6 separate regions of the Homo sapiens genome follow, and all the other regions are reported to be linked to region 5. The links are microRNA targets in miRTarBase. Many come from high-throughput screens and were not tested one by one. Region 5 holds a microRNA gene; each other region holds the end of a gene's coding sequence.
The links. Region 5 holds the annotated microRNA hsa-miR-5787 (GGGCUGGGGCGCGGGGAGGU, at 2,827-2,846, shown strand). A microRNA usually pairs through its seed, bases 2 to 8, with sites in the 3' UTR of a target mRNA and lowers its output. Matches are read on the target gene's strand: a 7mer-m8 pairs with bases 2 to 8, a 7mer-A1 pairs with bases 2 to 7 and ends in A, and an 8mer does both.

Region 1 (4,000 bases), not on the chromosome of region 5:
GTCAGTCAGGTACTGTCAGGGTGGAAATGAGAAGCTGGGCCCCCTTGCCCAGCCTGGTCTCCAGCAAGGCCTAGCTAGTGGCTCCCTGACCTCACTTCCCACACCACCTCCTCCCATGACAGCCTGCCCAGGGAGAGAAGACACAGCCACAGGGACAAGGGGCTTCCAGCCCAGCTGAGAACACGGCTCTTTGCCCCTGACCTCCAGCCTCTTCTTCCCCTTGTTCCTTTCCCTTAGAGGACAGCTTTATGGACTCCCCGGCTGACCTGTTGTAACTGCACCCCCAGAGCAGCCCCTCAGGAAGCTCTCACCCTCTGTGCCCAATCCCTGGGGCAACTCCCCTGTACCTTTTTTATTGGATCCGAGTCTAGGACTGGCCCCAGGTGCCACAAGGGTGGCAGATGCTGGGTAAGAACTCTGTACCCAGTTCAGAGGTCTGACTGCAGCTCCAACGAAGTCTCCAGCTAGCCGTGTGGCCTCAACAAGTCACTGGGCCACCTCAATCCTGTTTCCTTATCTGCCAAAATGGGGCTAAGTCTGGCTTATTTACTTCACTTGGCTGTTGAAAGATGAAACAAGATAATGCTTGTAAAATGGTCTGAGGAAATACGAAGCTTTGCAAAAGTTTCAGACCGACCAGAACTGCCATTTTCAGAGCGGCGGAGGCACCGGGTCAGAGCCGCTTGAGGACTATGCTGGGCAGACAGGGTCGAGACAGGTGATCTCACCGCTCCTGCCACATGCTTCCCTACAGGCCTCAGCCTCCTTTTGCAATAAAATGACCCAGATGCTGCAGGCTGGCAGCTCCATCTCAGGTTTCAGTGCAGGTTTATTTCAGTTTTATATTTTATTCCAGGCAAGTGCTTATTACATGGATAGTATTCATGTCTCGGTAACTAAAGTCTTGGAGCATGAACAGCCACTAGAATACAGTTCAATAGTAAAAATACAGTATGTACAAAATTAGGGTTTTTGTAGTTTTTTTTTTTTTCCACACAGCAGATGTATCCAAACACATAAAAATCTCTACAGTCTGGGGTCGCTACAGTTTATATTTCAGGAAACAGAGACACAGTGGCCGAGTCCTCACTGTAAACAAGGGCCACCTCTGGGGGTTGGGGGTGGGACCCTGGGATGGGGGGAGAAGCAGCTGTTTCTGGAGAGAGAAGGGGTCATGGTGGCCCCCCAGTTACCCTCCAGGCATTCCCTGCCTTCTTTGGCCCCCCAAGGAACCAACCTCCCCCTCTCCCCGAGGTAAGGACTCCCAGCCAGTGAGCCACTCTGAACATCAAAAGGTAAAACACGCATGAGAGGTAAGATGTGTGCGTGTGCGTGCGTGTGTGTGTGTGTGTGTGTGTGTGTGTGTCCCAGGCTGGAAGGGCTAGGGAGGGAGGGCCAGGCGGTCCCACAGGGTGAGGACAGATGTGGTCCCGACAGCACTCTGGGGGAGACGCCCAAGGAAGGGCTGGGTGGTGACTGCCCACTTGGGCACACAGCATCACAGCGTTCACAAACGACAAGAAAAACAGCAACACCCATCGTCACCAATCTGGACATAGTCATTCGGCACTAGATTTGCAGGCCCCCGATGCTGGGGGACAGGGACGGGGAGGGGCAGCGGGTGGATGATGAGGTATCTGTGCAGGCCCGGGGGCCACTGGCCTCAGGATGCAGGGAGAGGTGGGCAGGCTGAGGGGAGGGGCGAGCTCCACGAGGCTGCTCTAACTGCCCCGTGGGTCAGGCCTGCCATCGCTGTCACAATGGGAATAGCAAAGCTGGCTCTCCCAGAGCCACGGGGTCTGGCGGAGGTGGCTGTGCTGGGGTGGGTACAGGGCTCAGCCTCTGAGGATGGTGACCTGGTTTGTAACTGTCCCTTTACCCACACCAGGAGAGAGAAATAAGGAACAGTCCCCTGGGAGGTGTCCAGGACCAGGAGGGAACAGGAAGGGAATTTTTAGGCATCTAAGGATTCTTTATTTCCAGAGAAAATCTATTCAAGACCTTTGCTGACCTCCTCTGTGCCTGCAGGGCACTCCAGGAAATCCTCAGCTCTGTCCCCTCCCCCCGGCCCCCTCGCCGGCCCAGGCCCCTGCCCCAGCCCATCAGTGTGAGCTTCACATCCAGGGACACCGGCTTCCTCCCGCTACACTGAAAGGCCACTGGTGAGTGTGTGTCCAGGTGGGGAGCCGAGCGTGTCTGACACAAAGCCACTTGTAATAAACACCCACATACAAGGAAAGGCCAAAGCAGGCTGCCCAGAGGCAGAGAAAGCCGCATCCTAACACAGAGCCCCTGACTCCTCCCCCTTCCACGCTCAGCCCTGTCCTTGACCCAACCAAGGACCTCTTCTCAGAGAAAGGTGCTGCTGCTCTGCAGCTCCCCGGGCAGGGCCCACTCAAAAGCGTCCCCGGGAGAAGCAGGGTGTTGAGGGGATGGGAGGACAGAGGCAAAGGGGCTGGAGCAGAAGCAGCAGCCCTAGCTCTGGCCCTCTGTTCTGTATAGGTCCCAGGGTTGGTCTGGGGACAGGCTTAGGGCTTGGCTAAGCCGCTGGGTTTTTACCTTCCTGATGTCTCAACGATGTGGCTTCTATGCTCCTGGAAACAAGACCAGATGCTGGTCCATGTCTCCCAAACTGCAGGAGGCACCCAAACCCACAGGCCGCCAGGCCCACCTGTCCCTTGGAGCAGTGCCCAGCACTCAGCAGAGGTCAGAGATCAGGGGCTGAACGCAGGACAGCGCCCCTCTTTGCTGCCTTCTGGAAGCCAAGAGCCAAGCCCAGGGCTGGGGACTGGGGACTGGGGACAGGGGCCCAGTGGCTCTCCTCCCATCCAGACCCAGGCTGCAGGGGACGGGGAAGGGGAAGGACAGCCAAGTCCCTCCTTCCCCACCTCAGCCTGCCCTCCTGAGGTCCAGAGCCCAGTGGCAGGGATTGGGGTGAGGGCACAGGAAGCTTGGCAGTGGCTGGGTTTGGTTTATTGTTGGTAGAGAATCATTTTAAGTAGTATCTACGGTAACGAATCACAGTGACTGCAACCGGGTCAGAGAGCCCCAGGCTGAGGCCCCACCTGTCCGGGTGGGACTCCAGACCAGCCACTTCCTATGATCTGTCACCTGTGCTCAGAGCAAGGCCCCTTATCACCCCAATCCGCAGCTTTCTGGGCCAAGTGGCTTCAGTTCTGCTTTCCCCATTTCCCCTCCAAAGGCCTGGGAAGAGAACATGAGGCTCCGGAGGAAAGCCGGGGGCCTGGGCCACCTCACCAGACAGCAATAGCAGCAGCAGCACACGAAGGCGGGGCAGGGCGGGGGAGAAGTCAGGGAGCGTGACGTCCACATCGCACTGATTTCCGAGGGTAGGGAGGGGAAGCAGGAGCGGCACTGGAGCTGGCACTGGGCCGGACAGGTGGCACATTCCATCAGAGTCTCGCATTTTCTCAGAGTCATCTTACCAAGTCCTAGTGCAGCAGGGTGGCCCTTCCCTCCCTTGGCTCAGAGTCTTTGCACCCCCTTCCCCTAGGAGGCCTGGGGGTGGGTGGGGGGGCTGGCCTGGGCCTGGCTGGAATGTGTGGAGCTGGTGGGTGAGAGAGTGGGGGACAGGTCCCCCTCCCTGTCCCCACTGGGGGCCTCTGAGTGGCCTCGTCCTCAAGCCAGCTTGAGTGTGCTGACTGGGAAGGAGGGCATGGTGACCATGGTCACAGGGTTGAGCACGGTCTGGCCCACCAGCTGGGGGTGGTGCACCACCTGAGCCCCCACGGCCGGCTTTGCCATGACAGTAGCCGGGGGCCCCAGGCCGGCCGTGCCGTTGACTTGCTGGTGCGAGAGGGTGTGGGCGATGTGGCTCACTGCCACGGGCTGCGGGTACAAGGGCAGCTGGGAGCCCAGGTGGGCCACATGGTTGAGGGTGGCAGGGTGCACAGTGATGTGCCCAATGGGGGGTGTGGCAGGCGCCAGTTGCACCGCAGGGCTGGGGGCCGAGGGGGCGATGTGGGCGATGTGCTTGCCG
Region 2 (5,095 bases), not on the chromosome of region 5:
AAGTCCAAGTTTTTTTTTTACTTTCCCTCTCCACCACCTCCCCTAGAAGCCTCCACCCACAAGCCCATCCATTCTGTTTTCCACTTTTTTTTTTTTCTTTTTGGAGTCAGAGTCTCGCTCTGTCGCCCAGGCTGGAGTGCAGTGGCACGATCTTGGCTCACTGCAACCTCCTCCTCCTGGGTTCAAGCGATTCTCCTACTTCAGCCTCCTGAATAGCTGGGATTACAGCTGTGCGCCACCACGCCCAGCTAATTTTTGTATTTTTAGTAGAGATGGGGTTTCACCATGTTGGCCAGGCTGGTCTCGAACTCCTGGCCTCAAGTGATCTGCCTGCCTCAGCCTCCCAAAGTGCTGGGATTACAGGCATGAGCCACCATGCCCGGCCTCTGTTTTCCACTTTTGCACACATATCCACAGATCCGTGATCATGATACTGAATATTCTTCGATCTGATTTTCCTTTTTAATTCGCATAGGCCAGAGTTCAGCAAACTGTTTGTTGTAAAGGACCAGACAATAAATACTTTCGGCTGGGCGTGGTGGTTCACGCCTATAATCCCAGCACTTTGGGAGGCCGAGGCGGGCGGATCACAGTGTCAGGAGATCGAAACCATCCTGGCTAAAGCGGTGAAACCCCGTCTCTACTAAAAGTACAAAAAATTAGCCGGGCATGGTGGCAGGTGCCTGAAGTCCCAGTTACTCAGGAGGCTGAGGCAGGAGAATGGTGTGAACCTGTGAGGTGGTGCGGCTTGCAGTGAGCTGAGATCGCGCCACTGCACTCCAGCCTGGGCTACAGAGCGAGACTCCGTCTCAAAAAAAAAAAAATTTACTGTATTCCATTGTCAATATATCTTTGACACTTTCACAAGTCAACATATGTGTCATGTATGATATTCCAAAACAGGCATTGCTACCTTAAAATGTGGTGGTTATAAGCACCGTGGAGAGAACTTGACTCTTTGAGTCCAATTTTTTTTTTTTTTTTGAGACAGAGTCTCGCTCTGTTGCCCAGGCTGGAGTGCAGTGGCGTGATCTTGGTTCACTGCAACCTTTGCATCCTGGGCTAAGTGATTCTTGTGCCTCAGACTCCCCAGTAGCTGGGATTACAGGTGTGTGCCACCACACCCAGCTAATTTTTGTATTTTTAATAGAGAGGGGGATTTCACCATGTTGGCCAGCCTGGTCTCGAACTCCTGACCTCAAGTGACCTGCCCACCTTGGCCTCCCAAAGTGCTGAGATTACAGGCGTGAGGCACCATGCCTGGCCTGAGTTCAAATTACTACTCAGCTATTAGTAGCTGAGGTGGGGCTGAGGGTGGGCTCTCTGGATTACACCTCATTTTCCCTGGAGATAATAGCATCTATCTGATGGGATTGGGAAAAAGATCGGGTGAGAGCCAGGTGCAGTGACTCTCACCTGTAATCCCAGTGCTTTGGGAGGTTGAGTGGGAGGTCGCTTGAGCCCAGGAGTTTGAGACCAGCCTAGGCAACATAGCAAGACCCACATCTGTGTGTGTGTGTGTGTGTGTGTGTGTGTGTGTGTATAATTTAGCTGAGTGTGGTGGTGCACGCCTGTAGTTCCCAGATACTCAAGAGGATGAGGTGGGGCCAGATGTGGTGGCTCACACCTGTAACCTCAGTACTTTGGGAGGCCGAGGTGGGCAGATCACTTGAGGTCAGGAGTTTGAGACCAGCCTGGCTAACATGGTGAAACCCCATCTCTACTAAAAATACAAAATTACATCCTGGCTAACACGGTGAAACCCTGTCTCTACTAAAAATACAAAAAATTAGCCGGTTGTAGTGGCAGGCACCTGTAGTCCCGGCTACTCGGGAGGCTGAGGCAGGAGAATGGCGTGAACCCAGGAGGTGGAGCTTGCGGTGAGCCGAGATCGTGCCACTGTACTCCAGCCTTAGCCGGGCGTGGTGGTGCACGCCTGTAATCCCAGCTACTCGGGAGGCTGAGGCGGGAAAACCACTCGAACCTGGGAGGTGGAGGTTGCGGTGAGCTGAGATAGTACCACTGCACCCCAGCCTGGGCAACAGAGTACAACTCTGTCTCAAAAAAGAGCGAAAAAAAAAAAAAAAAAGGCTGGCATAGTGGCTCACGCCTGTAATCCAGCACTTTGGGAGGCCGAGGCGGGCAGATCACTTGAGGTCAGGAGTTCAAAGCCAGCCTGGCCAATATGGCAAAACCCCGTCTCTAGTAAAATTCAAAAATTAGCCGGGCATGGTGGGGCACGCACCAGTAATCCCTGTGGCTGTTGGTTATAGGGAGTGGATTCCTATGTAACATTCATTGAACTGTCCCTTTAAGATTCATATACTTGGGTGCATATGAATTCAACTTGAATATGGATTAACAAAGAGAAAGTAACATGTGGTTGGTGATGGGGGAAATGAACCCTCTCAGGACTTAGGGTGGGAGTGAAAAGACTGACAATGATTTGGGCAACAGTCCAGCAGTATTTAGTAAGACTGAGAATGTATCTTCTCCATGTCCCTGGGAGAAGTCCCTGAAGTTCCCCTTCTCTGTAGCTACCGTAGAGAAACACTGTAGATTGTCACTTGGATTTTTTTCCGAGATGGTATCTTGCTCTGTTGCCCAGGCTGGAGTGCAGTAGTGCGATCTTGGCTCACTGCAGTCTCAAACTCCTGGGCTCAAGTGACCCTCCCACCTTACCATGCCTGGCTAACTTAAAAAAAAAAAATTTGTGTAGAGATGGGGTCTTGCTATGTTGCCCAGGCCAGTCTCAAACTCCTGGCCTCAAGTGATCCTCCCACCTCGGCCTCCCAAAGTGCTGGGATTACAGGCGTGAGCCACTGTGCCAGGCCTGCCAGTGTCTTGATCTTGGACTTCCCCGCCTCCGGAACTGTGAGAAATCAATTTCTGTTGCTCATAAATTACCCAGCCTGGCCAGGCACTTTGGGAGGACGTGGTGAGAGGAACGCTTGAGCTCAGGAGTTCAAGATCAGCCTGGGCAACATAGCAAGACCCCGTCTCTACAAAATAAATAAATGAATAAATAAATTACCCTGCCTAAGATATTTCTGTTCTAGCAGCAGGGACAGATGAAGACACACACACGTACACACATGGCCTGTATGCAGTTGTGGGTGAAGTTTATTAAGGCAATACTGAATACCAGAGCATTTCAACAAGGCTTACCACACAGGCCCCAGTACCTTTCTACTCTACAATGAGGCTCAGAAGCTCAGTGTACCACCCCATCCCCAGGAGGCCCACTTAGACCAGAAATCCCAAGTCCATTAGCTACAGGCTGATATTCAGGGACATCGGTGTAAACAAAGAAGTGGGATATGAACTATATCCCTGATTTTTTTTTCTTTTTTTTTTTTTTTGAGACTAAGTCTCACTCTTGTCCCCCAGGCTGGAGTGCAATGGCGCGATCTTGGCTCACTGCAACCTCCGCCTCTCAGGTTCAAGAGATTCTCTTGCCTCAGCCTCCTAACTGGGATAACAGACACCTGCTACCATGCCCGGCTCATTTTTTTTTGTATTTTTAGTAGAGACGGGGTTTCACCATGTTGGCCTGGCTGGTCTCGAACACCTGACCTCAGGTGTTCCGCCCGCCTCAGCCTCCCAAAGTGCTGGGATTACAGGTGTGAGCCACCGCACCCGGCCTATATTCCTGATATTTAACAAGGAAAAAAAATTCTGCAGGGGAGAACTTTCCTGAAAGATATTTTTTCTGGACATCTCTCTCTACTGACTGATAGGGTGAGGCTCAGAACAGGCTTCTTCCAAGCTCAGAGAGGCTGAGAGATGGGTCAACTGGGTGATGCCCGTTTTGAGAGCCTTAGCTTCCCAAGTGGACAGCACAGAAGAGCTGGGAGGAGTGGCTAGAAAATAAGTTTGAAATGAGCCCCGGGTTGAGGACTCCAGAGCACAGCTGCATTATAGAGACGGGGCCCGCTGAGTCCTCTCCTCTCCCCCTACTTCTTCTCCTCCGGGGCTTTCTCAGTGATTCCAGGGGCAAAGGGTCCCACGAGCCACGTGACAGGTGTGTTCTGGGCCACATATTCCACCATGTGGTCCAGGGCCTCGCGGGCGCTGGCGACACGCTCACGGCTCTGGGCCAGAATGCTGCTGGACAGGTCCTGGAAGGAGTGGATGCTGGAAAACGTGGCCTGGAGGTCCTCCACCTGGCGGCGGGCCTGCTGCACCTGGTCCTTCACATTGGTGGGGAGGCCCTGAATGCTGGACCCCAGGGAGGTACAGGTGGCCTGCAGTTGCTGGGCAATGTCCCGGAACATGGTGAGCGCCCGGGACTCGACCTGCTGAGAAGGGAGATGGGGACACCAATCAGGACCATTTGTTTCAGGAAAGGCGATCGGAGCTGAAGCCAGGGAAAGAGGGGAAGAGGGGTTCTACCACTGACCTTGGGGCAAACGCTTTCCATAGGCGAAACTTTTTTTTTTTTTTTTGAGACGGAGTCTCGCCCTGTCGCCCAGGCTGGAGTGCAGTGGCACAATCTCAACTCACTGCAAGCTCCGCCTCTCAGGTTCGCGCCATTCTCCTGCCTCAGCCTCCCGAGTAGCTGGGACTACAGGCGCCCACCACCACGCCAGGCTAATTTTTTGTATTTTTAGTAGAGACGGGGTTTCACCGTGTTAGCCAGGATGGTCTTGATCTCCTGACCTCGTGATCCGCCTGCCTTGGCCTCCCAAAATGCTGGGATTACAAGCGTGAGCCACCGTGCCCGGCCCTTTTTTTTTTTTTTTTTTTTGAGATAGAGTCTTGCTCTGTTGCCCAGGTTGGCGTGCAGTGGCATGATTTTGGCTCACTGCAACCTCCGCCTCCCAGGTTCAAGCGATTCTCCTACCTCAGCCTCCCGAATAGCTAGGACTACAGGCGCGTGCCACCACGCCCGTCTAACTTTTGCATTTTTAGTACAGATGGGGTTTCACCATGTTGGCCAGGCTGGTCTTGAACTCTACCTCAAGTGATCGGCCCTCCTTGGCCTCCCAAAGTACTGAGATTACAGGCATGAACCACCGCGCCCAGACTCTTTTCTTTTAATTAGAAACAGGATCTCACTTTGTCGCCCAGGCTGGAGTGCAGTGGCGTGATC
Region 3 (5,095 bases), not on the chromosome of region 5:
CCCCAGGGCCTTGGCACTGGCCATGCCTCGTCTGGGCACACTTTCCTGAGATGTCCACACAGCCCCTCCCTCGCCGGCCCCAGCCCTGCCAAACGCCCTCCTGGGCATCACCCCTGCCACGTCCCACAGTGTAGAAGAAACCTCCCCACAGGGTCAGCTCCAGGGACGGCAGCATCCTCTGTTTTGTTTTCAACGCTGCATCCTTGTCACCTGGAACAGCCCTGCACAGAGTGGGCCCTCAATAAATATCCAGTAAGGGAAAGAGACTCTGAGGGTCTCCTGGTCCATCCCCTGCCCCAGCAGGCTCCTCTGGAGCTTCCCAGGCCTGTGACCATGCCTGCAGAGCTGCCCACAGCTGAGCAGATGCTGACCCCATCTCAGATATTATCTGGGCACCCCCTGCCATCTAGCACGAGCCGCCCCCCACCAGCCGTCTGGTCTGACCCCCCACTGCAGTCTTGTGCAAGCCCCCTGCTGTCTGGCCCGACTCGAGCCCCTTCCGCTGCAGCCCTCCCTGAGCCCAACGCTCCCTCCTCGCTGTCCGGCTCGAGCCCCTCCTGCTGCAGCCCTCCCCTGAGCTCAGCTCTCCCTCCTCTTCTCAGGTGCCTCCTACTTCTTCCGTGGCCAGGAGTACTGGAAAGTGCTGGATGGCGAGCTGGAGGTGGCACCCGGGTACCCACAGTCCACGGCCCGGGACTGGCTGGTGTGTGGAGACTCACAGGCCGATGGATCTGTGGCTGCGGGCGTGGACGCGGCAGAGGGGCCCCGCGCCCCTCCAGGACAACATGACCAGAGCCGCTCGGAGGACGGTTACGAGGTCTGCTCATGCACCTCTGGGGCATCCTCTCCCCCGGGGGCCCCAGGCCCACTGGTGGCTGCCACCATGCTGCTGCTGCTGCCGCCACTGTCACCAGGCGCCCTGTGGACAGCGGCCCAGGCCCTGACGCTATGACACACAGCGCGAGCCCATGAGAGGACAGAGGCGGTGGGACAGCCTGGCCACAGAGGGCAAGGACTGTGCCGGAGTCCCTGGGGGAGGTGCTGGCGCGGGATGAGGACGGGCCACCCTGGCACCGGAAGGCCAGCAGAGGGCACTGTCCGCCAGGGCTGGGCAGGCTCAGGTGGCAAGGACGGAGCTGTCCCCTAGTGAGGGACTGTGTTGACTGACGAGCCGAGGGGTGGCCGCTCCAGAAGGGTGCCCAGTCAGGCCGCACCGCCGCCAGCCTCCTCCGGCCCTGGAGGGAGCATCTCGGGCTGGGGGCCCACCCCTCTCTGTGCCGGCGCCACCAACCCCACCCACACTGCTGCCTGGTGCTCCCGCCGGCCCACAGGGCCTCCGTCCCCAGGTCCCCAGTGGGGCAGCCCTCCCCACAGACGAGCCCCCCACATGGTGCCGCGGCACGTCCCCCCTGTGACGCGTTCCAGACCAACATGACCTCTCCCTGCTTTCTAGCGGCTCGGCTGGGCTCCCTGGTGCTCCAGGGCCATGGGAGTGGGTACCCTCGGGCCTCAAGGGGCTTGACCCTGACCAGGGGCCCACGCACCTGCACTTGGGGTGGGGGCTTCCCAGGAGGTCTCGGCAGTCGCATTCCTCCTTGTTCATCAGCCCGTCCCGCGCTGTCTCTTCCAGTCCTCGTGCCCCGAGGAGTCCCCACGCCCCTGTCACAGATGGGAGAGTTGAGGCCCAGCGGGGGATGAGCCTCAGTGCTACAGGCAGGGGCATCACGGGCGGGCGGGGCGCCAGCTGGCCCAGTGAGATCTGAGTGTGGGAGGTGCCCGAGGAAAGGCATCAGTTGTTGGGTGAGCCACTTGGGACGCTGTCTGCCCCGCAGCACTAGACCATGATGCCCGGCCGAGCACCGGGACCTGGGTGCGCCCAAGAGGGAGGGTAGGTGCTCCCTGCGCAAGAGGGAGGGAGGGTGCTCCCTGCAAGGGGCTGATTCTAGCTCCAGCCACTCTGTCACTTGCTCCCTTTGCTCCCAGCCTCCAGATCCACAGCGGAGTCCCTCAGCCTGCCCCCACTCTGGCCGGCGAGTGACGCGTCTGTCCTGCAGTACCCTCTTGTTCAGAGGGTGCAGCCGATGCCACTCTGCAGGGCCCAGTCCTCCCGCTGGTGCACAGTCCTCTGGTCTCTGCGGCACAGACGCACCCCGGGCCACAGGTTCGGGGCCTCAGGCTCTGGCTCACCAGCATCTGCCCTGGGCTGTGGAGGGCCCGGGTGCCCCCTCAAACGTGACTCAGTGAGGATGAGGAGGTGGCCGTTGGACTGTGGGGGATTCACTCCCACATAGCAGGAAGTTCCTGACCACAGGCCCAGCATAGGGAGCGGCTGGGGCCACCCAGGGTGCAGATGAGGCTTCCTGGCACCCAGGAGCCAAAGCCCACAGCCCCCTTGTCCCATCCCAGGGATGGCACCCATCCCAGGATGAGGCTGCCAGGGCCGGGCAGGCAGGCCCCAGGCCAGGCCTCATGGAGCCGGGCCACCTCCCCGTGAAGAGAGGCCACATCCTCATGGAGTCCAGCCGTGTCCTCTGTCCCCCGCCTGTTCACCATCTGCTCCCTGGAGCAGGAGGAGTCCCTGCCTGTCAGACCAGTCTGTGGAAAGACCGACCTCCCTCCTGTCTGTCGGGGACACTGGCTCTGCCCTGCACCAAGTGGTGTTTCCTCATCACGCTTTGTTGCCCAGCAGCCTGTGGGGTGAATTCCCCCGTGCAGCTGGCCCAGCCCCGTGGTCCCCACGTCCTGGGTCGTGCCCCAGTGCAAAGCCGGCTGTGGGCCTTGTCTGCTGAGTCGGGCTCTCACGTTGGCAGGGCTCACTGCGGTTTTGAAGTCCAAACTCTCCGTCATAAGCCTCTTCTGCCGGTCCTATCTCTGGTGAAGAGGTGAACCGTAGGCGGGGCAGGGGGGCTGCTCTGAACTTGCCTCTCCATGCTGCAGCCCACCTCCCTCTGGCAGTGGGGTGGCCGTGCTGGGTCCTGGGGCAGGGCCTGGAGCCCCGCCAGCCCATGACGCATTTCATGAGCCCCCACCTTTTGATATGCACATGCAGCTGAGGCTACCCTGACCCCACATTCAAAGTCGGAAATCCCCAAAACCCAAGACCTTTTGAGCACTGATGGGCTCGGGGTGCACACAGAACATTTGGGATTTCACTTTTTTTTTTTTTTTTTTTTTTTTTGAGACAGAGCCTGTCGCCCAGGCTGGAGTGCAGTGGTGAGATCTCAGCTCACTGCAACCTCCGCCACCCAGATTCAAGTGATTCTCCTGCCTCAGCCTCCCGAGTAGCTGGGATTACAGGCAGGCACCACCACGCCTGGCTAATTTTTGTATTTTTAGTAAAGACAGGGTTTCAGCATGTTGGTCAGGCTGGTCTCGAACTCCTGACCTCAGGTGATCCACCCGCCTCAGCCTCCCTGAGGTGAGGCTAGGATTACAGGCATGAGCCAACACACCTGGCCAAGTGGCAGTATTTGAAAAAAGAAAAGCAGAGAAAAATGCTCAACCTGTAAGTATAATGCAAATATAGTGTCCAAACTCCAAACAATCTGAGCTCCAAAACACTTTTCTGGTCCTGCGCGTCTCGGATGAGGAACACGCGGGCAGGGCGTGTTGTTTTGTGGAAAGGATCTCATGTTCATAGAAAGCTGCACCCGCAGCATGAGAGTCCTCTGCATCCTTTGGGAGGCGCTGACCACCCTGAGCTCGCTTCTGTGTCTCCTGGAACGCAGGTGTCCTCCCAAGGTCAGAGTTGGGAAAGACACGCAGCCAGTGGATCTCAGATCAGAGGATGCTGCAGGGACAGACCTCACCCAGGGCAGCCTTCTTTGGCCCGGCACAGCTCCCGGGCCTTCCCCGACCCCTGTGACCTCGCACCTATGAGGGCTGCCGGCCCGTCCTTCTGTGGTCCATGCCCCCGGCCTGTCCGCCTGCACCTTCCTCGTGATGGGACCTCGGTTCTGTGTCTTCAGCAGGCAGTTTTCCATCTTCGCCTGAGTCACCATCTAAACACCTGGAGACTTCACGTGACGTTCTGGATTTTCAGAGTCACTGCTTATACCTCAGGCTGTGCTGGCCCAACTTGGAGAAGCTGTGCCCCCAGGCCCAGGAGGCAGGGCATCGCCAGCCCACAGCCACAGTCAAAACCCTCCGAAGGAGGTCAGAGGACCCACGCCACCCCAGTGAGGGGCAAGGACCTCTTCCCTTCTTCCTTCCACCCCAGGGAGGTCAGCCTGGAGGCCCAGGGTCTCTCTTGAGCCACACGGCCGGGCCAAGGCACTGGCTGCCCTTAGCGTGACCCAGGCTTTTGACCAAAAACACACAGCCCCATGGGTGCTATACAACGCCTCTGCATGGGAGACCTCCGAGGCCAGGACACACCCTCTCCAGCTCCCATGATACAGGAAGGGAAACTGAGGCACGGTGTCTTAGCTCAGCTTGCCGTGACAGGCTGCTGTAGACCATGCGGCTTCCACATGGGTGACCTCTGAGGCCAGGACACACCCTCTCCAGCTGCCGTGTTACAGGGAGGGAAACTGAGGCACGGTGTCTTAGCTCAGCTTGCCGTGACAGGCTGCTATAGACTGTGCGGCTTCCACACAGGCATTTGCTTTCCCACCAATCTGCAGGAGTCTGAGGTCAGGATGCCGGCAGGGTCAGGTTCTTAGAGGCCCGCTTCCTGGTTCAAAGCCAGCACCTTCTCACTGTGTCCTCACAAGCCCGAGAGAGAAAGTGCTGGTCCCTTCACCCCCTACCAGGGCACCAATCTCATTGTGGGGGCTCCGCCCTCACGACCTCATCTAACCCAAATCGCCTGCCAAAGGCCCCCTCCTAACACCATCACACTAGCGGTCATGGTTTCAAAATGTGACTGGTGGCCGGGCACGGTGGCTTATGCCTGTAATTCCAGCACTTTTGGAGGCCAAAGTAGGAGGATCGCTTGAGCCCAGGAGTTCAAGACCAGCCTGGGCAACACAGCAAGACCCCATCTCTACTAAAAACTTAAAAACCACACACACACGCACACACACACACACACACACAAAGATGTCTGAGGAGACACAGACATTCAGTGCATAACATCCAGGGTGGATGGGCC
Region 4 (5,093 bases), not on the chromosome of region 5:
CCCTCAAACTTAAAATGCCCATGTCATTTCACGAGTACCCATAACTACCCATCGTTTAGATACATGTCCTCCCTTGGTCTAGAAATCTGCAGCAGTTCCTACTTAAACTGATGGATGCTTTGGGCTTTGGAGGTATCTCATCCCTATGCCTGTTGCCCTGAAGCTGCCGGAAGGAAAGGCCCCACTCAACTACTGGGAAGAAAGCCCATAATTCAAGGCTTTTAATACAGTCACTACACAAGCTCTCCCTCTGATTTAGGAGATCTTGTTACCTCCTCATCTACATGTGCTTAAAAACAAAAAGAAACCTATAATTATTCAATTCACCTGTGGTCCAAATAAGTCTCACATCCAGCCATTCCCCTGAGAGGGCAGGAGGCCAGACTTTGAACTTTCCACAGCTGGGTCTTCATTTTACTAGTGAGATAAAGAGGTGCAGATTAGGGTGACAGTCCATCTAAGCAAGTGGACGATCTGGGGAACTGTAGGCCTTGCTGAAGCATCCTCCCACAGAAAGGAGATAAGGGCCTTATCCAATTGGCTGTACACAATAGATCAGTGCTTCTTTCCTAGACAAGGCTGAAAGGGGCCAACATTATTTCTGAAGACTTCATTATTGGAATTCTATGGGAGTGATCTCACTGAGCTATTTTGGAATAGAAATGTGGCTAGTTGCCTGACCTCCCTCAATGGTTTCACGTGGCTTTCAAAGGGAAGGAAGGGCAGTGCTGACTTTTGGTAAAATGGGCGAAAGGGTCCATGCCAGCAACACAATCACTCAAAGTCCAGATGAGGGATCAGTAAATACAACGTGCCTGAAAGGTGGCCCTTGAGCACATTCCTCCGGTAGACATTAACTTATTAAATTGATTCTGATTACAAATATAAACTTTGCCCCCATCTCACCCAGTAACAATGCAAGAGTTGATGTCAGTCTATAAAAGGAAGTAGGAACTGTCCCTGGCTTTCAGGCTCCAACATCCTCCCCCTGTCAAGATGTGGCACCTCAAACTTTGTGCAGTCCTCATGATCTTCCTGTTGCTGTTGGGCCAGGTAAGGAGGGAAGGATACTTATGTGTGTGTGTGGAGTGTGGAGATGATAGTGGTGGTGGAACTTGAAAGCTAGATTCAGTCCTGAGGAATGGTTCCTCTGTTCTGAGTCTACAGCATCTGCGGAATGGAATGATCACTCTTCCAAGGTGTGCAGCAGGGTGTCAACACTTTCATATCTGAATGTCTTTGCCCTTACAGATAGATGGCTCCCCAATACCAGAAGTGAGTTCGGCAAAGAGAAGGCCACGGAGAATGACCCCATTTTGGAGAGGGGTTTCCCTCAGGCCTATTGGAGCCTCCTGCCGGGATGATTCTGAGTGTATCACAAGGCTATGCAGGTACTCCCTGAACCTGGGAGCAGGGTTGGGCCAGAGAGCCCTGGGAAGCTGGGCAGAGGAGTGACAAGGGGACACATGAACCTAAGAATAAAGCTGGGATGGAGGAGTTCTAGACTGAGACTGGGAGCTCCATGGAAAATCCCTTAGGAGTTAGGAGCCAAGAACAGCTCTATGTGGGTACCATGAAAGAGTGGTGCCTTTCCATTCTTCAGTCTTTCCTGAGACTGGACAGATCAAGCAAAGAGGAAGGAAATGCAGCATAGGTGGCCCTGGTCATTCCTAGACCCAGTCTTAAAAAACTACCCTTTCTTTTCCCCTAGAAAAAGACGCTGTTCCTTAAGTGTGGCCCAGGAATGATGTACATACCAGGGAAAGAAAGGACAGCAGTCACCTCCGACAATGCTCCGTTCTATGGAATATTGATTAACTGCATTTTGGCTGGAGACACCCAAGTGAAGCAATCTTGTATTTTTAATATTTAAAGGCAGATGTACGCTTTAAATTGGTCTCCATTTCTTCTTAGAATGTTGATATATGGATAAGCATAACTAAACTTGTCAATTTAGAGTTTATTTTTCTATGGATACTATTAAATGTCTCAAATTGAAATTTTAGCAGTCTGGAATTCAAGCTTTTGAGGGAAAGAAGGATTCATTTTGTATACTAAAGAAAAAAACAGCATTGCCCAATAATGTGTTAACTTCTCAATCTGGAAAGTGTAGTGAGAGCTACATAATCAATAGCTACGTAATCAACTTCAGCAAGTTCCTAAGCTGTGGCCCTGGATCCCTTCACTCCATACTCTTCAGGGAGGTGTCAAAGGTGGTCAAGCTTGGGAGGCTGAGGCAGGAGAATCACTTGAACCTGGGAGGTGGAGGTTGCAGTGAGCCAAGATCATGCCACTGCACCCCAGCCTGGGTGACATAGAGAGACTCTGTCTCAAAAAAAAAAAAAAAAAAAAAAGATGGTCAAGCACTTGCCATCTAATGAAGCACCCAGGTTTGTCTATGGCTGTCTGAAGATAAGGCAGAACAGAGAGAAAAATCTAGTTTAATAAAGCAATGAAAGCCCAAGCCACCAAAAGCACCAAAAGAGATTTAAGATTTCTGTTGGGACAAGGTGAATTTTGACATATGCACAAGGACCCATGGCCAGCAAGTTCAGAATTTCTGTAATCAGAAAATGAGACCTCAGCTGGTGGGAACAGACTTTTAAAGAGTAGTAACGGACCTTAAGACACAAAACAGGAATTGCATGAAAAGGGCTCAGAGTTGAAGAAATATAAAGAGTACAGTGTTCAGTAACTTTAATACAGAAAATCTATTTGATATTTATTAAACTTAGTTTCTCCAACTATGGTTTGGCATTGTACAAAGCATCTTAATGACACAGTAGAGTTAAAAAGATCTTTACAAATTGAAATGTGATACCCTTGTCTCCAAATATTTTAATTGCCATAAATTTGTTTAAAAATACACATTAAACGCATGTTTGACACTCTAAACTTTCTATACTCTCAATACCACAAAATACATATAATATACTATACAGATGTGGAAAAATCTAGTTAGTATATAATACTTTGCTCACCATTAACAGCTTTATCGTGTGAAATGCACATACTGACTTAGAAATCCTAGCTTTTGAGCCCCAAAGTACCTCTGAAATTGTAATGTATTGCAACAAATAAAAATCACAGTATATAATTGAAATTCTGGTTGAAAATGTCAGATGCCTAAATATTTTGGATAAAAGAAATGTAAAACAAAGATTTGGTTCATGTACAAAACAAAGGCATCCTTATCAGTCACTAACAGTACCTTTCTGCAAAATCAACAGGCTTTTAATTTATCAGTGACATTATCTCCCCTCCAAAACCCTCCCCAAATATCAAACAATTATATACCAAATAATTTTAATTTCAAATAAAAGGATTTTCAATAAATATATAAGCATTTCCATCCTCCATATACAAAATTTCTTAAAACCATTCAAAACGGAGGCTAGATAGAAATTTTCATAACTGTGCTTACCAACCCCACAACTGGCCCTTAAAGGTGGTGCCTTTTCAGGCAATGTCAACTGGCCAGTTCTGTTGGTGAGCCCCCTACCCCCACCCCACCCATCCCAGTACTGTTGAATGCTCATGTTAATGATTTGCCAGGTGTGTGCATAAAGTTGTAAAATGGGGACACTTCTGGAACACCAACAACAAACTCAACAATATGGATGATCATGGCATTGATTTGAAAGGCAGCATTTCCAAATTGATATTTTCCAGAGAGGAACATAGCAGGTAGAAAATTCCAATGGTTAAAAGCTGAAAAGAAGTCCCACATGGAAGCAGTAAGAGGTCAAAACTGAGTATCACTAGAGTTTCTGGGTGGGAGCTTTTTTATTTTTAAGAATGGCAAGTTATGTTTAGCTGAGTAACAGTGGCAAGGAGAGGTCAATGCTGACATTCCTGAAAGTCAACTTCTTTACATGATGACTACTTAGGCTGCTATTTTAGGATACTTAAAGATCTCTAAGACTTGGATTAGACTTAACTTGAATACCTTATTCTGTGACCAAATTACATGAAAAGAAGATACATAGTTATTATTTCCATTCCCTTTTCTGGAGACAGCAAGTTCTTTCTAATTAACCATAGGGTTCATGTGAATAGGAGCTTTGTAAGACCAGCATCCACTTTACAGACTATTAATAATTTACTTTTTGTCACTTGCTAACTTGGTTTTGGGGTCTAGAGGTCTAAAGTGAATTTCTCCATTAGCGAGTATCTGAAAGACATGCTCACAAACATGAAAAATTTGGCCTCTTCTCACTACATATTCCAAGGTATTCAATAATTATCTCTTCTATTAGTTTTACTGAATAGCAACCTTAGATGTACAGTATTATTACTGGAAAAAAAGCCTGCCTCTTCAATACATTAATGCATAAAGCTGAAATGAAATTTATGTTCCATGTATTAGGGGATATACAGGTATGATAGGTGTCTATATGGGTTTGAAATGCTCTGTCTCCCCAAGTTACTTAGGTTTTTTAAAAAACATCATCACAAGCTGCCTAACAGTCATCCCCAGTAGATGTTCCTGGGACCCAGACACAAACTCCTATAAATCAAAATATATAATGAGGCCATACTGTTCAATTAGCAACTGGAAAATTAAAATCTTTCCCACCCTGTAAGAGCCCTACGACACTACAGAAGGGCTCAAATACATTTTAAAAGTTAATTTACTACAAATCATAGTAATTAAGCTTTAACAATCTAAAGGAATACACATTGCACCCTTGAACATTAATATTCAAGGTGTCAACAAGAAAGTGTCTTAGATCAATTTAATAAATAATGTGGAAATAGTTGCACTAAGCTAAAATACTAAACACACACATATTTGACAAACTAATTTCATGTTTTCATACATACATACATATATATAAAGTGTGTATGTGTACAGAATTTTAAGATCCAAAGTTGCATACCCTTACACCTAGAAGAGTGCACAGTGTACTCCTCCTCTATATAACTAGGCATCACTGACTGGAACAATCACTGGCTGCTCTGAAACTCCAGAGTACTGGCCTCTAGAGCCAGAACTTTCATTTATAACAAGTGCCTTTTGTAGGCTCTTGCTTCAGAATGCAAGCTCATTCATGAAGAAATGTACCAACGTTTCTGTCATTAAATACAAA
Region 5 (5,095 bases):
GGTGACAGAGTGAGACTCCGTCTAAAAAAAAAAAAAAAAAAAACATTGACTGGACATCAAAGTGCAGGTGCCGAGTCAACTGCTGGGTGTATGCGTTGAGTTCAGTAGAGTGGCCAGTGATGAAGCTTTGGATCTGGGAAGCAAAGCAAGTGGTGTTTAAAGCCATGGGATGGGAAGAAGCTAAGTTCAGACAGAGGAGGGCGGCAGTAAGCACTGAGCCCTGGAAGATGAGGCAGAACCAGCAAAGGAGCTGGGCGGGAGTAGCCAGGAGGTGAGAGGAAAACTGGGAGAGCATGGGCACCTGGAGCCAGGTAAGTGTCAGATGCTGCCAAGGAGTTGAGGGTAGAGGATGGACCACTGAATTCGGACACCTGTGGATCCCTAAGGACCCTGACCAGGGCACTTTTGTGAGGGAGGGACAGGCCTGCCTGGAGTGGGCAGAGGAGAAAGTGAGGTAGAACTGGAAAGAGCCAGTGTAAACAACTTGTGTGAAGTGAGAGGGGCAGAGCCAACAGTGGCTTTTAAGAAAGACTGGAAAGTTGGCCGGGCACGGTGGCTCACGCCTGTAATTCCAGCACTTTGGGAGGCCGAGGCGGGTGGATCATGAGGTCAGGAGTTTGAGATCAGCCTGGCCAACATGGTGAAACCCCGTCTCTACTAAAAATACAAAAATTAGCCAGGTGTGATGGCGCACACCTGTAATCCCAGCTACTCGGGAGGCTGAAGCAGAATTGCTTAAACCTGAGAGGCAGAGGCTGCAGTGAACCGAGATCACACCACTGCAATCCAGCCTGGGCAACAGAGTGAGACTCCGTCTGTGGGTGGGAGGAAGAAAGACTGGAAAGAAGAAGGTATTGAGGTGAGAGAATGGAAGCAGCTGGTAGGAGGGTAGGTTTGAGCTCAGTGAAAGACTTCCAGGATGGGGGTGCTGGAAACTGAGCTGGAAAACAGTAGACAGAGATTGGATAGTGGGGGTCTGGACATCAGGGAGTGTGCAGCTTGGCCACTGACCTGCCTGGTCAAGTGCTGGTGGCTAGGGACACAGCGGGTCCAAGACGCAGGCAAGGATGGCAAGGAGCCGTGGAGAGACCCAGGGGACAATTCAGATGTCTGCCTAGGCCAGGTGTGGTGGCTCATGCCTGTAGTCCCAGCACTTTGGGATTCACTTAAGGTCAGGAGTTCAAGACCAGCCTGGCAACATGGCAAAACCCTGTCTCTACTAAAAATACAAAAATTAGCCGGTCATGGTGGCACACACCTGTAGTCCCAGCTACTCTGGAGGCTGAGGCACCTCCAGAGAATCGCTTCAACCCGGGAGGCGGAGGTTGCAGTGAGCCGAGTTCGCCATTGCATTCCAGCCTGGGCTACAGAGCAAGACCCTGTCTCCAAAAAAAAAAGAAAAGAAAAAAGATGTCTGCCTGGACCCTAGTTTAAAGTCACCCAGCAACTGACTTTCCAACAACGCGGAGCAGTAATAATTGACTGAAGGTTGCTTAGAAAGAAGAGCAGCCCTGGAAAAATCTGAAAGCATAAAACTACTTTCCAACCACACAAGTCTACAAACCGCCTGGCTACACACACAGGATTAGCCAGCGACCTAATCCGCCAAGCTATGCAAAAGGAGGCCTCTGCTGACCCCTGGCGGTCACCAGCCGGAGTCTGGCTGCGCGGTGACCCACCACACGTTGCCCAGCCGTGTGGCTGGGATGGTCGGTACCCATGGCCGTGCGGTCGAGCCTTGATGCTCCAGGACAGTCCTGGAAGGCTTCCTGGCAGATCCGTGGGAAGAAAGCCGACAGAAGGGCGGGAGGCGGGAGGGGAAAGGTCCCCCGGGATGGGTAGGGCCTCAACGCTGGGCATCGGCGCAGGTGTGTACTGCAGGGAGCCAGCCAGACCCCCCACGGACTGCCTGACCTTGGGGGAAGCCCGGAGTAGAGGAAGAGGCCGGACCCCCAGACCCGCCATTGACTATGTCCGCCATTGACTATGTGTTCTGAGAGAAATTTTTTTTTTTTTTTTTGAGACTGAGTCTCACTCTTTCGCCCAGGCCGGAGTGCAGTGGCGCGATCTCGGCTCACTGCAAGCTCCGCCTCCCGGGTTCACGCCATTCTCCTGCCTCAGCCTCCCGAGTAGCTGGGACTACAGGCGCCCGCTACCGCGCCCGGCTAATTTTTTGTATTTTTAATAGAGACGGGGTTTCACCGTGTTAGCCAGGATGGTCTCGATCTCCTGACCTCGTGATCCGCCCGCCTTGGCCTCCCAGAGTGCTGGGATGACAGGCGTGAGCCTCTGAGAGCAAATTTTACCCAGTTCCTCTCTATCCTCCCGATGACTCTGAAATCAAACTCAGCAAGTCATCCGAGCCCCCACGGCGCAGCGGCCCTAGGCTGGCATGGGCGATGCGGAGCTACTCCGCCCTCAGGAAGCAGGCGAGGTGCCCAGCGGGAGAATCACCCACATCACCGTCTAATCTCTGCTGTGAAGTGGAAGCGCGAGAAGGAGGGAGCGTCTCATGACGGAGGGTGTGAAGACGCTAGGCTGGACGAAGCAGAAAGGCGGGTGTCACTGGGGACGTTCTGAGGGTAAGCCGATGGCGGCTATCGCGGAGGAGACCCTGGCGAGGTGGGGCCCCGCGCGGGGCAAGGGGGATGGGGTGCCACAGAGGGCTAGTTGCAAGAGGACGCGTGACGGCTGCAGCTCTGCGGAGACCGGGCCTCGACGGCCAAGGAGTGGCAGGTCGGCGGAGGCGGGGGCCAGGCCCGGAGGCAGAGCGAGACAGGAGAGCAGGCAAGGCGGGGGCCACCGTGAGTGGGGGCCGCGAGGCGGGGGCTGGGGCGCGGGGAGGTGCTAGGTCGGCCTCGGCTCCCGCGCCGCACCCCAGGCCCGCCAGGAGGCGCCGCTGCCCCGCGAAGCCGTTCCGGCCTCTCCCGGCCACCGAAATCCCGCGCTCCGGCCTAGAGAGGCCCCGGAAGAGGCGGTGCAGCGCACCCCGAGGCCGCTTCCGGCTTCGGCTCTGCAGGAGAGGCCAGAATCGGGGGAGGACGCCTTGGGCGGGGCGTGGGTGAGAGAACCTGGGGGAGGTGAAGAACTAGGAGGTTGCACTGGGAGTGGACAAGGGGGAAAATAAGAATTAGGGAGGGGCTGCGGTGGGCAGGGCCAAGGGCAGGTAGCACCCTGCAAGGTTGCACCCTGCGCAGCTCTCGGTCCACTGCTGAGCCTCCTGGCTTTTTACCTCGCAAAATGCCGTCCTGGTGAGGTCCCTGGGGAGCCCACCGCTGGCCAAGACCCAGGACAGGGCAAGGAAGGCTTCCTAGAGGTAGAGAGGTGCACAAAGGCGGGAAAGCAGATACGGGGACATTGGGAGCCCCTTTAGACCGATCTTTAGGTGTCTGAGCCACGCCCATTTGGAGGGAAGGCTGAATGGGGACCAGCCCGCCCAAACCTGCTGGAGGAAACAAAAACTCACTCCCGTTATAATTGCTCCCCGCCCCCTCACCAGCTCTCTTCTCCCCGGAGACGGGACAGCCCTGTCTCCACAGGCTTCACTCCATTTCCCTCGAATGGTGCCCACCTCCTATCCTCCCATCTCTCTTATCCTCAGGTTCTACTACTCATAGCAACCAGAAGGAACTTTAAAAATCAGATCATGTTGGCCGGGCACGGTGCACGGTAGCTCACGCCTGTAATCCTAGCACTCTGGGAGGCCGAGGTGGGCGGATCACCTGAGGCCAGGAGTTTGAGACCAGCCTGGCCAACATGGCAAAACCCCGTCTCTACCAAAAATACAAAAAAATTAGCTGGGCGTGGGGGCGCGCCTTGTAATCCCAGCTACTCAGAGGCTGAGGCAGGGGAATCGCTTGAGCCTGGGAGACAGGCTGCAGTGAGCCAAGATCGCGCCACTGCACTCAAGCCTGGGTGACAGAGCAAGACTCCGTCTCCAAAAAAAAAAAAAAAAAAAATTCAGATGATGTCATTCTGCCTTCAACACCCTCCAGTTGTTTCCTTCATACTTGGAATGCAATTTAAACTTTCTTGCCCCATGGCCGGGATGATCTGGCCCCTGCTGACCCCTGCCCCCTGGTACTAGCCCACAGCCTGTCCTGTTGGCATGGCATGCCATGCTGGCCCTCACATTAGGGCCTTTGCACTGGCTGATAGCTTTTCAAAAGCTTTTTCTCCAACAGCCTGAAGTCACTCCTGACAAGGCCCACTTCCCTAACTCTGTCTGCTTGGCCTTGATCGCAGTATTTGCTCCATACGGTACAGGCAGAGCGATGCTTGTGCGTCCAGAACTCAGTGACCAGCTTCCCTCCCGCAACAGGTCCCTCCTCCCCTATTACTCCCTTGCTCCTAGTCACAATCTACAGGAAGCCCCTGAGCCCAGCTGGCAAGGTGCACCTTGCTTGGCTGTTTGCTGTTGCATCACCTTCATTAGGGCTGTTTTTGCTCCTTCATTAAATTAAATTCCAGGAAGCAGTGCTAATGACAGCCCTAACGAGTCACGGGAGAGGCTACCAGCCCCAGCCTTTGGAAAGCATGGCAAGGAGGACTAGGCAATAACATGAACAAAGCAGTAGCTCCTGGGAATAGAATTGATTATCATTTCCCAGGCCCCCCAAGGACCCTGGGCTTCCCAGGGGAGGTGGCCTTTGGAGACTGCCTATGCAACAGGCACAGTGGCAGGTTGTACCATGAACTCTTCAAGGACAAAGAAAAGGAGGGAGGTTAAGTTTAGGCCTTGGCCCCAAAGCCCTGAGAGCTCCTGAGTTCCCTGCAGGGCTTGGGTAGCTCCTCCCCAGTCATACAGGAACACCCTGAATGCCAGAACCAGTTGGGTTTGTAGGGCTAGGTGTGGATCACTGGCTTGGAGATGTTGGTGCCCCTACCTCAGCATCCCCTGGAGACTTTGGAACCCCCTGTGTGGCTTGTTCCTCCATGATGCCTCATGGCAGTCCCCTCTCACACCAGTCTTCTCTTGCTCTCGCTATTCTGGCCCGGCTGGACTCCTCTCTGGTTTGGGAGCATCCAGCTCCTTCCCAACCCAGGGCCCTTGCACTTGCTGCTGCCTCTGTCGTCACTCTCTTCTGGCTTGTTA
Region 6 (4,962 bases), not on the chromosome of region 5:
AGACTGTACCATTCACAGCGGGGCCGCTGGCCCACTGTACCAGTGGCCATGAACACCATTGCTGCCCCAGGCTCTGGACTCCCCCTGGGTTGCCTCCTTCCCCCAGACATCCGATGGGGTCCTCCCTTCCCAAGTCAGCCCCCAGAGAGGCCCAGGGAGCCCCAGGGAGCCTTGAGAGCTGGGGTGGGAAGTTCAGAGGGGAGGGGGAAGGAAGGTCAGCACCAGAGAGCAGAACCTCAGCAGCTGGCTGCCGTTCCCTCCAGGCCCCCTTGGTAGGGGAGGAGAGTTCAGCTCCGGTTCCCCTTCTGCTCAGCCCCACAATTTCCCCATAGGCGGTTACCACTTCCTGCTGCCGGAAGAGACTGCTCTGCCTCCCTTCCCCTGCAGCTGCACCTGCCCGTCATAGGCCTGAGGGGGGCAGCCCCCTCGGAGTGAGGTCTTAGCTACCCTGGGGGCAAGTCTTGGGGCCCCCCTCATCCAGGGGTGGTGGGGCTTTCCTCCACCCTCTACCACAGGGCAGCAGCTTTTCTCCGGGAAATCGGGAAGGCGGGAGGCGGGAGGCGGTTGACAAGCCAAGCAGACAACTGGCTTCAATTTGGTGGGAGGGAAATCCCTGGGGTATAGATGTGGGGAGAGAGGCAAGGCACTTGGGCACCAGGCGTGTGTTCCGAAGGCGGGCGTGGGGGCACTAGTGCAGGGGTACTAGGCGTGTGTGTGCACGGATGTCAGAGTCAGGCTCTGTGCAAATGCGGGCACACATGACCTTGACCTGCAGATCTGGGGAGGGGAGGCTGTGCGGGTACTTCCTGCCTTTCAACTGTGAGCAATTAATTCTCTTGCCCAGAAGGAAAAAAACACTCCCTCAGCTCCCCGCCCCCTTCTCCCAGTACCAAGGCCCTTCTCGAACACGTCGTCGTGTGTGTCTGCAGGACCTGGGGCTTCAAGGCCTGGGAGCTAGCCAGACCCAGGACCTGGACTTCCAGCAGCTGGTCTCGGAAGTACCGATGTTCGAGTCCTCCAGCGAGACTAGAGAGCCTGCGCCCCTGCCCACAGCGCGTACAGCCGCACCCACACTCCAACCTGCTCCTGGTCGGGAGACTCACACGTCCCACCGCTGCCTCAGGCCAAGGGGAACCAGGGAGCCCCGCCTCTCACTAGCTGGCCCCAACACATCTTGCCCCTCCATCCGAGCCCTGACTGGTCCCCAAAGGTCCCTCCACCCAGCAGAGCCAGCCACAGGGCTCAGGCAGGCAGGAAAGGCCTCAGCCGGTGCCTTCAAACGCTCTCTTCACTCCTTTTTTCACTCCAGAGCTATTCCTAGGATGCCCCATTCAGCCCGTACTTTAGGGCCTGAGTGTTGGGCCCTGGCTTTTAGGGCACTTGTTTGGCATTTAAGGCCCTGAACGCAACTGCCCCCTGCTGCTCCGTCTATCCTTCGCTCCATTGTTCCCCTTCAAAGCATCCAAAAGCCAGGCAGCCCGCAGAAGGCGCGGACCTGCCCGCATGGGGACGGAGGCTCAGCGGCCGACAGGCATCGGGCCCGCCGGGGACGGACGGCAGAGGGCGGGCCGGGTCCCATGGGCCTGGCCGGGGCGGAAGGAGGGCGCCGCGGGCGCCGTGGGAGCCTGGGACACCTCCCTTCCACCGGTGCCGGGGCGCGGCCGACGCAGTGCGCAAGCCCGCCCTTCCCCCGCACCCTGCGCGCGAGCCCAGTGCCGCCGGACCAATCAGAGCCTGGGAACGAACCTCGCCGCGGGCTTGCGAACCGGAAGACACTGCCGCCAGGCGCGGGGCGGGACAGGACTCCGCCTCCGGCCCATACAAAGGGAAGCCCACGTCTTAAGCCAATCAACACAGCCTCGCCCGAGCCGGGAAGCGGAGAGCTGTGGGCGTGCGCAGACGCGCCTTTCCGGCCCCGGCCCCGCCCTGCCGCGCTCTGGGCTCCGCTTCCACAGCTGCCGGCTGCCTGCTGGTCACGTGCGAGGCGCCAGCCAAAGAGAACCGAGCTCCAGGCCTGTGTGGCGAGTTTTCAACCCGGCGGAGGAGCAGTGTGCCACCTGCAGTAGCAGGACACAGAGAGGGCTCAGGAATACAGGGCCCGCCCAGGGACTAGGGACAGTAAATGATGGCTTTGCAGCCGGAGGGGAGGGAAGGGAAAGGAGGAAAGACACAGAAACGAGCGTTACGGTTAGGGTGACTCCATGAAAAACAGGATTTTGATATATATGTGTATATGTATATATATATGTATATATATATTTTTTTTTTTTGAGACGGGTCTCTGTCCCTGGAGTGTGGTGGCATGATCAGGGCCCACAGCAACCTCCACCTCCCGGGCTCAAGCGATCCTCCTGCTTCAGCCTCCCGAGTAGCTGGGATTACAGGCATGCACCACCACACCCGGGTAAGTTTTCTATTTTTAGTAAAGATGGGGTTTCGCCATGCTGCCCAGGCTGGTCTCCAACTCCTGAGCTCAAGTGATCCCGCCCACCTTGGCCTCCCAAAGTGCTGTGATTACAGGCATGAGCCACCGCACCCAACAGCCGCCCAGTTTTGTATTTTGCATGAAATTGTTAATGAGGGAATACATGGCTTTATGCATTTGTGTAACCCCATAGAAACTGTACAACACAGACAGGAAACCTACTGTAAACCATGGGCTGTAGTTTACAATAACTTATCAGTATTGGCGCATCAACAATAACAAATACACCAACTAATACAAAATGTCAATGGGGAAACGCGGGGAATTGTACTAAAAATAAATTATTTTCAAATGCAAACTCAGGTTAGGGAGTAGACTCAAGAGGTATCATGGACTCACTGACCATTAGGGTGGCAGGGGAGGGAGGACTCAAGGACTGTTGATGGGGCATCTGGCTGGGTCATTACTCAGACAGGACATTTGTAGATAAGCCCAATGAGCAGTTGGATGTCCACATCTGGAGCCCACGGGTATGCTGGGGAGCTGCTGTAGCCCGAAGCAGGTGTGATTAGGGAGAGAAAGTCTGAAGGTGAAGGTGGGAAGAGAACTGAAGGCCACCAAGAGTGGGAGCCCTGCTGTTGAGCTTTGAGCCTGAGCAGCCCCGGCTTGTGCCACAAAACACATTCAGCGTGGCCAAGCAGACCTCCAAGGCAGGGTCTCTCCCATAAGTCCAGGGCCTCCTTCCCCGGGGCCACAGCTGCTGAAGGTCATGAGACTAGGGAGTCCCACCTCCAAAGCTCTTTCCTTGTACTCGGGCCTGGCAGGATGCTCTGGGTCAAAAGGCCAAGGCTCACATCCCCACCAGAGGACCTGGAGAAACACACCCTCTAAATGTGCGCGCGCTCACACACAAAGTTCCCCAGTGCCACGGAGCGAATTTATTGTGAAAGCTCGTGGGGTGAGGAGGGGATGGGGCAGGCTCTAGGAGGCTGAGTCGGAGGCCTCTGAGCTGTCCTTGACATCTGTGCTCTCTGTGGTCTCGCTGACCTCGCTGAGGTCCTTGCTGTCCCCACCACTATCCTCGGCAGCCAGGCCCTTCTCCTCGCGACAGGCCTCTCCTGAGCTCGGAGGTGAATTGCCTTTGCTCTCCACCTTGTTCTCGATGGCACCCAGCACCACGTGCCTGCCCTTCTCTTTCAGCTCCAGGTGCCGCCTCAGCTGCCACCAGGAACCCAGGGAGAAGCGGGGGCAAAGAGACAGGGCCTAAGTTTCCAGACAAAGGGAGCCTGGCCCTGTCGCTGGCTGAGGAGAGGGGCATAGTGAGGCAGCAGGGCTAGGCAGGACACGCGGGACTGAGTGGGGACACCTGGCTGGAGCCCCAGTCCACCGCTACCTGGGCTTACCGACTACCATGGAGGCCCCCACGACAGAGCGCTGCCCCTTGACCAGCCCTGCCACCCGATGAGCCTTGGGCAGAACCCTGACTCAGAACTACCTTTGAGCAGGCAGGCCACCCACTGGTCCCTAGACCTCCCCACTTCCCTTCTAAAAGCCTCCTCCCTCTGCCTCTCCCATCACCCTCCAGGCTGCTAGGCAGATGGCCTCCTCTAAAGCCCAGCCTAGGAAACTGAGGTCGTGACTCCTGGCAACGTAGCCACAAGAGCTGGCATCCAAAGTCGGTCTCGCCTGCAGCCACTGTCTTGGGGCTCCTGAGTGCCGCCCCCGCTCGCCTTGCTTGGCTTCATGCAGGCGCTTACCTCGTCGGCCATCTGAGTGAGGTCCCGCTTCATGGCATAGGCGTCCTCCCCATCTGCATAGTATTTGGGCTCCACTTCACTGATCCTGGGGGCAGAGGGTTAGAGAGCAAGGAGGAAGACCTGTATCCCGGGGACACCCTCCTCCACTCCTGGTATCGTGGCTACTGGAGCAAGGTGCCATGTTTTCTCCCTGAAGGCTCCATCCTGAGACAACAAGTCCAGTGTGACCTGCCCTCTGTTCTCTCCAGCAAAGGCTCCAGGACACAGCGGCCCGCCCCACCCGTCCTGCCCCCGTTCTGTGTCCTTAGCCTGGATACTAAGGATCCATTTCTGCGGTTTCTTGTGAGCTGAAGCCCTGAATTCAGCCTTCCCCTTCCCTCCCTGCCCTGCGCCCTGTCCCTTACTGAGCTGCCTCACAACAGCCATCAGAACCCAGGAAAGACGGTGAGCCCTGCCTGAGCAGCTCTGGGGCCGTGACTACACTGGGCAGGTGTGTGTGCAGACTCGCGTGGCCATGTCCCTGGAAGGGGAGCTGGACTCAATGGCCTAGGCTGGCCCTGCCAGGCCTAAGACATGAGGATTGCTGACTTAGCTATAAAGCAATTCCCACCAGACATCGTCATCTGGGTCACAGATCCCTCTTGCCAGCATCCAGCCCAGAGGCCACCGCCCTTCCCAACAGTCCCTCTTCTTCATCCCCTACCAAACGGGCTGAGTGCAGTTAGTGTCCCTCCACAGGCAGCCCACCCCAGCTTCACTTGCAAGCACTTTTTTCCACTG

Region 1: the mRNA of MNT is a reported target of hsa-miR-5787. Seed matches in the 3' UTR shown: 7mer-A1 at 3,551-3,557, 8mer at 2,959-2,966, 7mer-m8 at 2,780-2,786 and 7mer-m8 at 1,464-1,470.
Region 2: miRTarBase lists PLIN3 as a target of hsa-miR-5787. Seed matches in the 3' UTR shown: 7mer-A1 at 3,555-3,561.
Region 3: the mRNA of MMP17 is a reported target of hsa-miR-5787. The part of its 3' UTR that is shown has no 7-base or 8-base seed match.
Region 4: the mRNA of LEAP2 is a reported target of hsa-miR-5787. Seed matches in the 3' UTR shown: 7mer-m8 at 2,300-2,306.
Region 6: the mRNA of NAA10 is a reported target of hsa-miR-5787. Seed matches in the 3' UTR shown: 8mer at 2,878-2,885.

Annotation. Positions count from the first base shown.
Region 1 is chr17:2,383,262-2,387,261 of GRCh38, forward strand. MNT (MAX network transcriptional repressor) reads right to left here. Exons shown (of 6, transcript NM_020310.3): 6 at 812-4,000. The coding sequence ends at 3,640. Among named protein-coding and RNA genes, the nearest start is that of MNT, 16 kb to the right of the region's middle. RefSeq lists an enhancer at 2,722-3,546.
Region 2 is chr19:4,835,236-4,840,330 of GRCh38, forward strand. PLIN3 (perilipin 3) reads right to left here. Exons shown (of 8, transcript NM_005817.5): 8 at 3,106-4,301. The coding sequence ends at 3,957. Among named protein-coding and RNA genes, the nearest start is that of TICAM1, 6.1 kb to the left of the region's middle.
Region 3 is chr12:131,850,323-131,855,417 of GRCh38, forward strand. MMP17 (matrix metallopeptidase 17) reads left to right here. Exons shown (of 10, transcript NM_016155.7): 10 at 603-1,449. The coding sequence ends at 952. Among named protein-coding and RNA genes, the nearest start is that of MMP17, 24 kb to the left of the region's middle. RefSeq lists an enhancer at 1,125-1,294.
Region 4 is chr5:132,872,699-132,877,791 of GRCh38, forward strand. It overlaps LEAP2 (liver enriched antimicrobial peptide 2), which reads left to right and starts at 970. Exons shown (of 3, transcript NM_052971.3): 1 at 970-1,053; 2 at 1,252-1,391; 3 at 1,712-2,348. The coding sequence starts at 997. The coding sequence ends at 1,748. AFF4 (ALF transcription elongation factor 4) reads right to left here. Exons shown (of 21, transcript NM_014423.4): 21 at 2,697-5,093.
Region 5 is chr3:50,224,612-50,229,706 of GRCh38, forward strand. It overlaps MIR5787 (microRNA 5787), which reads left to right and starts at 2,825; the gene lies at 2,825-2,879. It also overlaps a transcript of GNAI2 not described here. RefSeq lists an enhancer at 1,346-2,155 and a silencer at 2,668-3,037.
Region 6 is chrX:153,926,581-153,931,542 of GRCh38, forward strand. NAA10 (N-alpha-acetyltransferase 10, NatA catalytic subunit) reads right to left here. Exons shown (of 8, transcript NM_003491.4): 7 at 4,183-4,267; 8 at 2,645-3,643. The coding sequence ends at 3,407. Among named protein-coding and RNA genes, the nearest start is that of ARHGAP4, 2.8 kb to the left of the region's middle. RefSeq lists silencers at 1-28, 1,439-1,998.